3 linked regions of the Homo sapiens genome follow. Changing the gene in region 1 together with any one later gene gives a genetic interaction. Each region holds a gene or a part of one and is shown on either strand. Other genes may lie near its edges.

Region 1 (3,226 bases):
TCTCACAATGGCAGGGGAAAGTGCAGGAAGCTGCCCACGTACTGTCCCTGCGAGGAGCCGTGGTGGTTGGCGAGGACTCCGCGAACACACTGGCTGCCGAGCCATCCCCGAGGCCCCTCCCGGGCGAAGTCAGTGGGAGGCCGCCCCGGGCTGCCCCAGAGCTCATGTGCCCAGTGCAGAGCCCCAGCTCCGAGAATGGACCAGTGGCTGACTCAGCAGCTTCCAGAACTTGCCACACACCCACCCCATGTGCACAGGAAGTCACTAGCTTTAAAAAAGCACCTTGGGCCGGTCGCGGTGGCTCACGCTTGTAATCCCAGCACTTTGGGAGGCCGAGGTGGGCAGATCATGAGGTTAGGAGTTTGAGACCAGCCTGACCAACATGGTGAAACCCCCGTCTCTACTAAACATACAAAAATTAGCCGGGCATGCTGGCGCGCACTTGTAATCCCAGCTACTCAGGAGGCTGAGGCAGAATTGCTTGAATCCGGGAGGTGGAGGTTGCAGTGAGCCGAGATCGCACCACAGCACTCCAGCCTGGGCGACAGAGCAAGACTCTGTCTCCAAAAAAAAAAAAAGATAAAAAAGACCTTGGTGAGGAGGCACCAATTGCACCCATAGGTCTGAGCTTGGGCCCAGCCCGTCTCTGGTGGGGCAGACCCTGTGGACAAGGTGCCCCAGCTCTGCATCAGCGGGCACAGCCGCCACTGGGCCCTTGCCCCACCCCACACTCCTGTCTGCACTGGTGCCCAGGATCTAGCCCAAGCCCCTTCCCTGGGATCTGGGTGTTGGCAGCAGGACCCGCATCCTGGGTAGGGACACGTGAGGCCAAAGTGGAGGCACGCAGAGGCCGATGCAGCAGCCCCGGCAGAGCGCAGAGGATGGCCTGACCCGAGGGCGCCGGGCTGTCCTGCCCCAACGCAAGGGGGCTCTGCAGGTCAGGGACGGGGCTCACGCTGAAGCCTGAAGTTGAGCCTGTCCCCAGCATCTGAGCAGTGGGAGGGGCGTCCACCTGAGTACCCAGTACTGAGTACTGAGGCCTCAGCCATGCCGAGTGGTCTGGCGGCCCTTCCCCCTGCTGGGTACTCCTCCTCACCACCCACAGTGGGCTTAGCAGGGTCATGAAAAAGGTGGCCCAGCCCCTGCTCTCCTCCCAGGCACCTCACCCCAGGGCAGCCCAGGTCTCACACAGGCCTGAGGGTCCCCAGGAGGGAAGCCAGTGCCGGGTCCTGGCTCAGGGATCCTGGCCTGCAGGGGCGGCCGTGGGGGTCAGCGTGTGGTCCACGTCCCAGTAGGGACTCTCGCAACCTGCCTGGGCTGGCCCTGCCCTAACTGGCCCTCCTGCCTGGGATTTGCCTGGCTGCCCGTCTCAGGGCACCAGGGCTCTGAAAGGCAGAAGACCCTGGGCCTGGGGTCAAATTGCAGCCAGGCCCCAAGGATGGGCACCATGAGGGGCCCCCACCTCCCAGCACACCCTAGTGACCAGGGTACCCAGCAGCACCTCCCGTTCCAACAGACCAGACGCGATGGTCGTGGTGCTGCAAATCCAAGAGCCCAGGAGCTGAGACCCTGTGATCCTGGGGGCCCCACACACGCTGTACCCTCCTGGGGGGCCCCCACATGCTGCATCCTCCTGGGGGGCCCCCAGACACTGTACCCCCCGGGGACCCCCATACACTGTGCTCTCGGGGGCCCCCACACTGTACTCTCCTGGGGACCAGCTACTGAGCTGAGCCTAGGGGTTTGATGAGGGGCCCAGGAGTGCTGAGGGACCTAATGGGGGGCTCTCTGCAGGGCCCCCACTATTCTGGGACCCTCGGGCCCGGGGGTGGACCCTGTGCACTGGGTCCTCACATCCCAACCTGCCTGGCGTACCCCCCTTCTCAGGCCGGCCCCTGCCCACCACTTCCCGCTGAAACAGTAAAGCAGAAAGCCCCCTCAGGCTCCAGCCCGAGCGCAGCAAGCATCCACCCTGCAGATACACTGCAAAACTCTTTATGACACGGCCCAGCCCTGGGCCGAACACAGCCAAGCCGGGAGCATGGCGGGGAGGGGCTGGCTGCCAATGTGGGCCGCCCCTACGCTAAGGCCCTGAGCTCCTCCTCAGGCACTACTGCGGCGCCGGCCGAGAGGCTTCCTCTCCTGAAAGGTCTGAGCCCTCGCTCTTCTGCAAGCCGCGCTCCGCTCTAAGCCCTGCCTCAGACGCCTCCTCGCCACCTAGGGAAGAAGGGCGGCCGGCATCAGGGCCAGCGGGCAGGCCTCAGGGACGACGGGAGGGAGGGCCACTGGACCCTCTCTCATGCCAGCTGTCTGAGGGGCCACCCTGCACCCTGACTCTCACCTACCCTCCCCCGACCCTGGGGCTCCCCCGCCTGCTCCTGCTGGGACTCAGGCCAAGGCCGGTGGGTGGTGCCTGGCTGGGCAGCACCCGGAGAGACGCCTGAGGAACCCTCCTGGCCAGACAGGCCTGGGCTGGTGCCCCCGCTGACCCCACACCTTTCAGCCATGTCCCAGCGGCCCGCAGGGCGGAGGCAGCCTGCAGGTGGGCTGGAGGCTTTGGGGACGTGGGATTGGCCACCAGAGGGCAGAAGCTGTCCTTGTTGCAGACAGGCAGGCACCCTGCTCCCGTGGGACATCCTGGCCGAGTCAGCAGAGCCGGGCAGGGGCCCCCGCCAGACTCACCGGGCACCGTGAAGTCCTGAGTGTAGATGATGTCATCCTCGATGTCGAAGAGGTCCTCGTCCTCGTCCGCGCCGTGCAGGTCCTCCAAGTACGGCACCACAGTCATGCTGCGCCACCGGTCCTTGGTGTCTGGGCTCGGTGGGATGGGCACTGGTGCTTCAGCCGGAGGATGTTTCTTCCGGAACCAGCTGCAAACGCCCAGAAGCAGTGGCGCCTGTCAGGCTGGCACCAGGGCGGTCCAGTTTTCCGACCCAGCTCCTCTGGGCCCAGGGTACCTGCCACACACTCAGGAGCTGGGACCAGGCCGTGCAAGGGGTGGCTGTGACCACAGAAGCTCAGCCATGTCCTCTAGGAGCAGGCAGGCTGACCTGACTCCAAGCCTGACAGATGTCCCCTCCACCCTGAGGCCTGTGTCCCAGGTGGCACTCAGAAGCCAGCACCCACCAGATGGATGCTGGCTGCAAAGCCAGCAAAGGCCAGAAGGGGGTCTGGGGGGCCCTGAGCACATCCCAGCCCAGGAGGCTATCGGGGGGCAGCCCCAGTC
Region 2 (3,649 bases), on another chromosome or scaffold:
GATGCGTGCTTGTAATCCCAGCTACTTGGGAGGCTGAGGCATGAGAAGTGCTTGAACCCATATGTATATATGTATGTGTATGTACACACACATACACACACACACACACACACACACACACACACACACATATGTATATAGCTGCCTCAAAGTCTTTTATCCCTGATATAATTTATATATTTTATGTATGGTTGTTTTTTGTTAAGGATAGCAAACTAGGAAAAATAAATATTTTTATTTCAAAATCGTTTTAAAATAAATAGTAGAATTAATTAAAATAAAAGTGGCCCATTATTCTACCACTTAGTTCCAATGACAATTGAAAAAGAGAAGTAGTACATGTATGTGGTTAGAAAATGAAAAGAGAGGCTTTTTCTAGATCCTCCATCTCCTTAATCCTTTAAGGTAACTACTGTAAGATTTTATATATCTATTCTACCAGAATGTTTAAAAAATGTATTTGCTATAATGTATGTGCACATATTCTTTAAAAAAGCAATTTACATGAATTTAATCATTCTATACACGTTATTCAACATGTTTTTCTCACTTAACATAGAGAGCCTAATCAACACATAGACAAATCTAAATCATTTTTAAGGGCTAAAGTTTTTGTATTAATTTACCATAATTTATTTAACATGTCCCTTATGGGTAGACATTTGGTTAATTTTCAATTTTTTGGCTATTTAACAGTACAGGGTACATCTATTCACATTAATGGTAAAATTTTAAATTTTGGTAGTTTTTTGACAAATTGCCTATGTACTTCTACTACTAGAATTTTATACTTCTACTAAAAATATATATACTTTTCTAATTTTGTACATTTTTAATAGTATATGAGACACTTGTTAGGGCTGGGTTTTATCAAACATTTTATTTTTTTATTAATGCACATAATGAGTATTTTTTTTTGAGACAGGATCTCACTCTGTTGCCCAGGCTGGAGTGCAGTGGCGTGGTCACTGCTCACTGCGGTTTAATTTTTTTTGTTTTTTTGTAGAGATTGAGTCTCCCTGTGCTGCCCAGCTGGTCTTGAACTCCTAGGCTCATGCAGTCCTCCGGCCTTGGCCTCTCAAAATGTTGGGATTATAGGCATGAGCCACTGTGCCCAGCCTGTAATGAAATTTTTTTATTTCCAGTGATAGAATGGGGTGGAGTGCAGTGGCTCATGCCTGTAATCCCCAGCACTTTGGGAGGCCGAGGCAGGCGGATCGCTTGAGTTCAGGAGTTCAAGACCAGCCTGAGCAACATGACAAAACCCTGTCTCTACAAAAAAGGAGCCATATGTGGTGATGCACTTGTGGTTCCAGCTACTTGGTGGCTGAGGCACAAGAATTGCTTGAACCTGGGAGGCGGAGGTTGCAGTGAACCAAGATTGGATCGTGCCACTGCACCCCAGGTGACAGAGTGAGACTCCCATCTCTGAAAAAAAAAAAGGTAATAGAATGGCAAAGGGCATTAGTAGATAACATAAAAGAAGAAACACAAATTACTATTGAACCTTGTTAGACTATTCATACAACACTATGTTAAACTTTGCTAGAAACTATAAAAAATACAAATCAAAACAAGATTCTATTTTTTACTTTTAAGATAGAGATAACAAAAGATAACACCAGTGTTGATAAGGATGTGGGAAAAGGGTAATGCAAAGCAATATATACTTTCTGGAGGATAATTTCACTATATGTTTTCAAGAAACTTAAAAATACCTTGTAGCGTCTGATCCCATAATGCCATTTCTAAAAATATAGACTAAGAAAATATTTAGAAACCAGCATAAGAATGCTCACTGCAGCCTTATGTCTAAAGCAGAAATTGGTAACAGTCTATAAGCCCAGTAATAAGAAAACTGGTTCATCAGCTATGGCACATTAATTCAATGTACATATATGAGCAGCAACGAAAAGATGCTTAGTGATGTCAAGATTTTCCTTGTATGATTTTTAATACGCTAGACAGAAGAAAACAAAGGGAATATGCTTTATAAAAATTTTTGTTTATTGTGGCTGAATTGTTAATAATCCTCAATGCCTGGGGAACATTTGCTTTGTTCTTGTTTTTATTACTATTTAGAGATAGGGCTTTGTTTTGTCATCCAGGCCGGAGTGCAGTGGCTTGATCATGGCTCACTGCATCCTCGAACTCCTGGGCTGAAGTGATCCTCCTGCCTCAGCTTCCTGAGTAGCTAGGACCATTGATGTACGCCACCAATCCTAGAAAATTTTTTATTTTTTGTAGAGACAGGGTTTTGCTACATTGCCCAGGCTGGTATCAAACTCCTCACCTAAAACAGTCCTTTTGCCTAAGCCTCCCAAAGTGCTCACACCTGTCATCGTGCCTTGCTTGTTCTTGTTATTTTAATATTGGGTCACATTGTAGAGATATCCTTATATACACATGTATAGAAGAAATATGAAATGAAATACACCAAAATGTTTCTAGTGCATTCTTTGTGTAATAGAATTATGGATAATTTAGGCTTTTTTTGGTACTCCTGAATATTTTGTAGTGAATACTCTTACTTTCTTTTTTTCCCCTTAGGACATTCCAACCTACCTACTTACCTTCCTTCCTTCTTATTTATATTTGAATAAGAAATACTATCACATGGCTCAAAGTTGAAAAGGTACAAAAGGGTCTACAGAGAAAAATCTCTCACTCCTGTGCCCAGTCACTTAATTCTCATCCTTGGAAGCAACCAGTGATACCATTGTTTTGTGAATCCTTTCAGAAGTATTTCATGCCTAACATCAGTTTAATCAGAAAAAAAAAGGCATAACAAACATATTTAAAAGAAATTTTTTTCAAGTTAATTTAGGGTATTTGGAGCTCTTCCGATTTGGACTTCTATCTAAGTCTGAGTCAACCAGACTTCGTTGTGATTGTAGCTATGGTATTGTCTCAAAAAAGACAAAAAATTAGCCAGGTGTGGTGGCGTAGCCAGTAAAATCTTAGCCTTGTGGCTTTAATGATGTTCCTCAAATTCTGAGATAAGCTTATTTTATTCCTTCTATGCTAATATTGGTTCACATTTCAGTTATGCATATTTGTTTCTAGGGAAAATCCTGCTATTTTTATCATGGAGTTCATAAAATTAGTGATCAGCACACATTACAGACTTTCCAAGGGATGTGCAAAGCCTGGGATATAGAAGAACTTGTCAGCCTGGGGAAGAAACTAAAGGCCTGTCCATATTACACAGCCCGAGAACTAATACAAGATGCTGACATCATATTTTGTCCCTACAACTATCTTCTAGATGCACAAATAAGGGAAAGTGTGAGTATATGTGTAAAAATGAGAACCTTCTTCCTACTCATGGAGATGTAAATGTTGAATGTAAAAGCTTTTAGATGTTTTAATTTTTTTTGCTTTAATTTATGTAAATAAATTTGTGTAAACATATTAGAGTACTGAAAACATATCCTAACATGGGTTAAAATCAACCCACTCATTTTAATTTCCAAAATAACAAGCAGTTTTAAGGAACATAGTGACTGAAGTGGGATTACAGCAGGATTTCTCTTTGCATTTATGAATATTCAAAAAGAATTATTTAGAAACATTTCTCTGAAAAAACTATGTTTTGAAGAACTTATGTGGGGGAATAAAATTATGCCTTGTGAGCTTTGAGAAGTGA
Region 3 (3,749 bases), on another chromosome or scaffold:
CCTCCATCCCTGTGGCCACAACCCTGCCTGCCTCCCCAGAAAAGCCAGGGGCCGCACCTCCTGGTGCCCCACGGGCCCCCCATTAGCCAGCACTGGCTCAGTGTCTGTGAACGAGGTGCTAGGCCCGTGGGGCAAACTGGAGGGACGGGAGATCTGGAGACCAGACTGGGAGACCCAGCCCCGTATGCTGGGACGATGGGCGTCGAGACAGACTGTGATGTGGGGCTTTGGGGAGGGCTGGACACCGACCGCGACAGCCCTCGGTGGGAGTGCCCCTGTGGGGGTGCTGGCCTCAGGGCAGGAGTGCCCCTGGGGACAGTTCAGGAACAGCCTCTAAGGGGCACTGCAAGGCCCACGTGGGGCCCACCCCATTCATAACACAGGCTGGATGTGGCCTAGCGAGGCTGGCAGGGACAGAGAACCAAGAGCTTCTGGCCACACAGGCTCAGGGTCACAAGACCTGTGGCCTCTACCCATGGGGCTCCCGGCATAGTGTGGCGGGGGGAGCTGGGGAGCCTCCAGGCTATGAGGAGATGTGCCGCGAGGTGGCGAGATTCTGACCCTGCCTGGAGGGCTGCTGGGGACACCCAACCCTTCTCCAGTAGAACCATGCGTGGCAGTGGGAGGGGAGGACCTCCAGAGGGAGACCCTCAGCTCTGGAGCCCAGATCCCCTCCTGATGGAGTAGGAAGGGGACAGTGAAAATTCAGGAAGCTGGACGCTCCTCCGGAACCCGCCCCCGCCCAGGTCAGAGGGTCCAGGGAGGGGCCAGTGGGAAGGACCCAGGTAGGCCCTGCCTCTTGCTGCAGCGGTGGCCTGGGCTGGGCAGGGGAGCCAGCAAGCCACTGAGGGTCCCAGCCCCTTCCCCAAGGGCCCTTGGGGGGCAGGGAGGACGCCACAGCCTCTGCGTCCCTGCTCCCCCTTCTCTTTGTGGGCTCCGTCCAGGGCCTCTGCTCTCTCCCTCCCTGTGTCAGCTTTGCCTTGTGCCAGAGTTGGTTTGGGAGTGAGGACAGAAGACCATCTTGTCCCATAAAGGCACTCAAAGTCCCTGGTGCTGACGGTTACACATGGGTGTAGAGTTTCCAGCATGGGCGCCCCTGGGGACTCAGAGCGCCTCCCCAAAGACGGGGCCTTTTCTGAAGGCGCTGCACTCCAGGAAGGACTTACCGGCTGTTGGGAAGGCAGCCTCCCCAGAACTTGGTGTGAAAAAGGGCCCTCTCCTCCCCATGGAGCCTCCCAGCGGGGGGCGGGGAACGGCAACCAGCGGGACACTGCCGCCCTCCCCCAGTTACTGCCCGGGGGTCCGACTCCGTGGGTGGGTGGCAGCTCGCCTCCGAAAGTCTGGCAGCACCGGCCCTCATCAGCAGCCCTTTCTTTCCCACCCGGGGGGTCTCTCCTTCTGAGAGGTCGCGGGGGAGGTGGGGGGGCTGTGCGCGGGGGAGGCCTCAGCGGAATCCCGCCCGGCCTGAGAAGAAAGGGAGCCCCCGGGGAGGAGGCGGCCCCGACCCGCCCCCGCCCGCCCGCCCCGCCGCCGATTGGCCCTGAGCCGCTATATCTGGGCGCCCGCCCGGCCCGAGGCCACCGCCGTCCCCACCGCCATCCGCCCTCCCGGCCTGGCCTGCCCTTGCGCCCGGCTCCCCAGTGCCCGCCGCCCGCCCGCCGCGCTCCCGCGCTCCGTTCCGCCCAGGCCGCGCCCAGCTGGAATGCAGAGATCGCCGCCCGGCTACGGCGCACAGGACGACCCGCCCGCCCGCCGCGACTGTGCATGGGCCCCGGGACACGGGGCCGCCGCTGACACGCGCGGCCTCGCCGCCGGCCCCGCCGCCCTCGCCGCGCCCGCCGCGCCCGCCTCGCCGCCCAGCCCGCAGCGCAGTCCCCCGCGCAGCCCCGAGCCGGGGCGCTATGGCCTCAGCCCGGCCGGCCGCGGGGAACGCCAGGCGGCAGACGAGTCGCGCATCCGGCGGCCCATGAACGCCTTCATGGTGTGGGCAAAGGACGAGCGCAAGCGGCTGGCTCAGCAGAACCCGGACCTGCACAACGCGGTGCTCAGCAAGATGCTGGGTGAGCGGCGGGAGGGCGGCAGAGAAGGGGGAGAGGGCGGGGGGGGCTCGGGCCGGGGTGGGGCGGGGGGGGCAGGGGTCCCGGGCCGCGGGGTGCGGGGGCTGCGCCAAACCCTCGCGGGGCGTCCCGGGCGCACGGAGGGCTCGGCGCCCACCCGCCCGACGGCGTTCCACTCACTGGCGCCCACGGCCCGCAGGCAAAGCGTGGAAGGAGCTGAACGCGGCGGAGAAGCGGCCCTTCGTGGAGGAAGCCGAACGGCTGCGCGTGCAGCACTTGCGCGACCACCCCAACTACAAGTACCGGCCGCGCCGCAAGAAGCAGGCGCGCAAGGCCCGGCGGCTGGAGCCCGGCCTCCTGCTCCCGGGATTAGCGCCCCCGCAGCCACCGCCCGAGCCTTTCCCCGCGGCGTCTGGCTCGGCTCGCGCCTTCCGCGAGCTGCCCCCGCTGGGCGCCGAGTTCGACGGCCTGGGGCTGCCCACGCCCGAGCGCTCGCCTCTGGACGGCCTGGAGCCCGGCGAGGCTGCCTTCTTCCCACCGCCCGCGGCGCCCGAGGACTGCGCGCTGCGGCCCTTCCGCGCGCCCTACGCGCCCACCGAGTTGTCGCGGGACCCCGGCGGTTGCTACGGGGCTCCCCTGGCGGAGGCGCTCAGGACCGCGCCCCCCGCGGCGCCGCTCGCTGGCCTGTACTACGGCACCCTGGGCACGCCCGGCCCGTACCCCGGCCCGCTGTCGCCGCCGCCCGAGGCCCCGCCGCTGGAGAGCGCCGAGCCGCTGGGGCCCGCCGCCGATCTGTGGGCCGACGTGGACCTCACCGAGTTCGACCAGTACCTCAACTGCAGCCGGACTCGGCCCGACGCCCCCGGGCTCCCGTACCACGTGGCACTGGCCAAACTGGGCCCGCGCGCCATGTCCTGCCCAGAGGAGAGCAGCCTGATCTCCGCGCTGTCGGACGCCAGCAGCGCGGTCTATTACAGCGCGTGCATCTCCGGCTAGGCCGCCGGCGCCGCCCGGGTCCCTGCAGCGCTTCCTCCCGCAGCCCCCGCGACCGATCCGACCGCGTCGCTGCCGCTCTGCTCTCTCATACGCGTGTATGTTTGGTTCCATGTCACAGCCCCCTAGGAGCCAGTGATGCTCGGCCTTGCGCCCGTTCCACCTCCCAGGCCACCCTTCCTGGGCTTCTGGGCCACCTGCCCTCGGGGGGCCCCTGCGAGGGTGCCTGGAGTTCCCACGTGTCCCGGGGCTTTTCCAGGAAGCCCGAGCCCAGGACCTGTTGGCAGAGTTGCCAGGGTTACATTTTTGAAGCACCTGCTCCTTTTCTTGCAGTGTATTTTCTACAACCAGATTGTATTAATATTTTTTACTTTGCCCTTTTAAAAAATATACCTAATACAATATATTTAATTTTTAATTAAACTCTTAAACTTTTCTTCCAAGAAGTTTCAGTGATCAGAAGCGTCACTGTGGCAAAGACTTTTGCAATGTGAGGAATACAGATGTTTGCTTTCTATAAAGGAGGAGCCTGGAGCTGGGTCCCCGGACGGAGAGGCCACAATAAATCCTCGGGCCTTTCCTCTGCACACTGACATCTGTGGTGTTTGCAGGGAGGGAAAAGCAGTTCCCCAAATAGCCCTGGACGCCCCTTCCCTCCGAATCGCCCCCAGGGAGCCTGACTCCTAGCTTGAACCTCAT

Evidence for each region.
Region 2: changes in STK11 (region 1) and BRIP1 together harm fitness more than expected from each alone (negative genetic interaction), as found in Homo sapiens cells (one large-scale study listed by BioGRID).
Region 3: changes in STK11 (region 1) and SOX18 together harm fitness more than expected from each alone (negative genetic interaction), as found in Homo sapiens cells (one large-scale study listed by BioGRID).

The regions. Positions count from the first base shown.
Region 1 is NC_000019.10:1,222,629-1,225,854, reverse strand, and holds part of STK11 (serine/threonine-protein kinase STK11), read right to left. Parts: intron 2,871-3,226; coding exon 2,683-2,870; intron 2,218-2,682; coding exon of another isoform or gene 2,111-2,217; exon of another isoform or gene 1,980-2,110; intron 1-1,979. UniProt on the Homo sapiens protein: Tumor suppressor serine/threonine-protein kinase that controls the activity of AMP-activated protein kinase (AMPK) family members, thereby playing a role in various processes such as cell metabolism, cell polarity, apoptosis and DNA damage response.
Region 2 is NC_000017.11:61,800,892-61,804,540, reverse strand, and holds part of BRIP1 (Fanconi anemia group J protein), read left to right. Parts: intron 1-3,066; coding exon 3,067-3,288; intron 3,289-3,649. UniProt on the Homo sapiens protein: DNA-dependent ATPase and 5'-3' DNA helicase required for the maintenance of chromosomal stability. Acts late in the Fanconi anemia pathway, after FANCD2 ubiquitination.
Region 3 is NC_000020.11:64,047,470-64,051,218, reverse strand, and holds SOX18 (transcription factor SOX-18), read left to right. Parts: upstream 1-1,579; 5' UTR 1,580-1,702; coding exon 1,703-2,060; intron 2,061-2,256; coding exon 2,257-3,053; 3' UTR 3,054-3,637; downstream 3,638-3,749.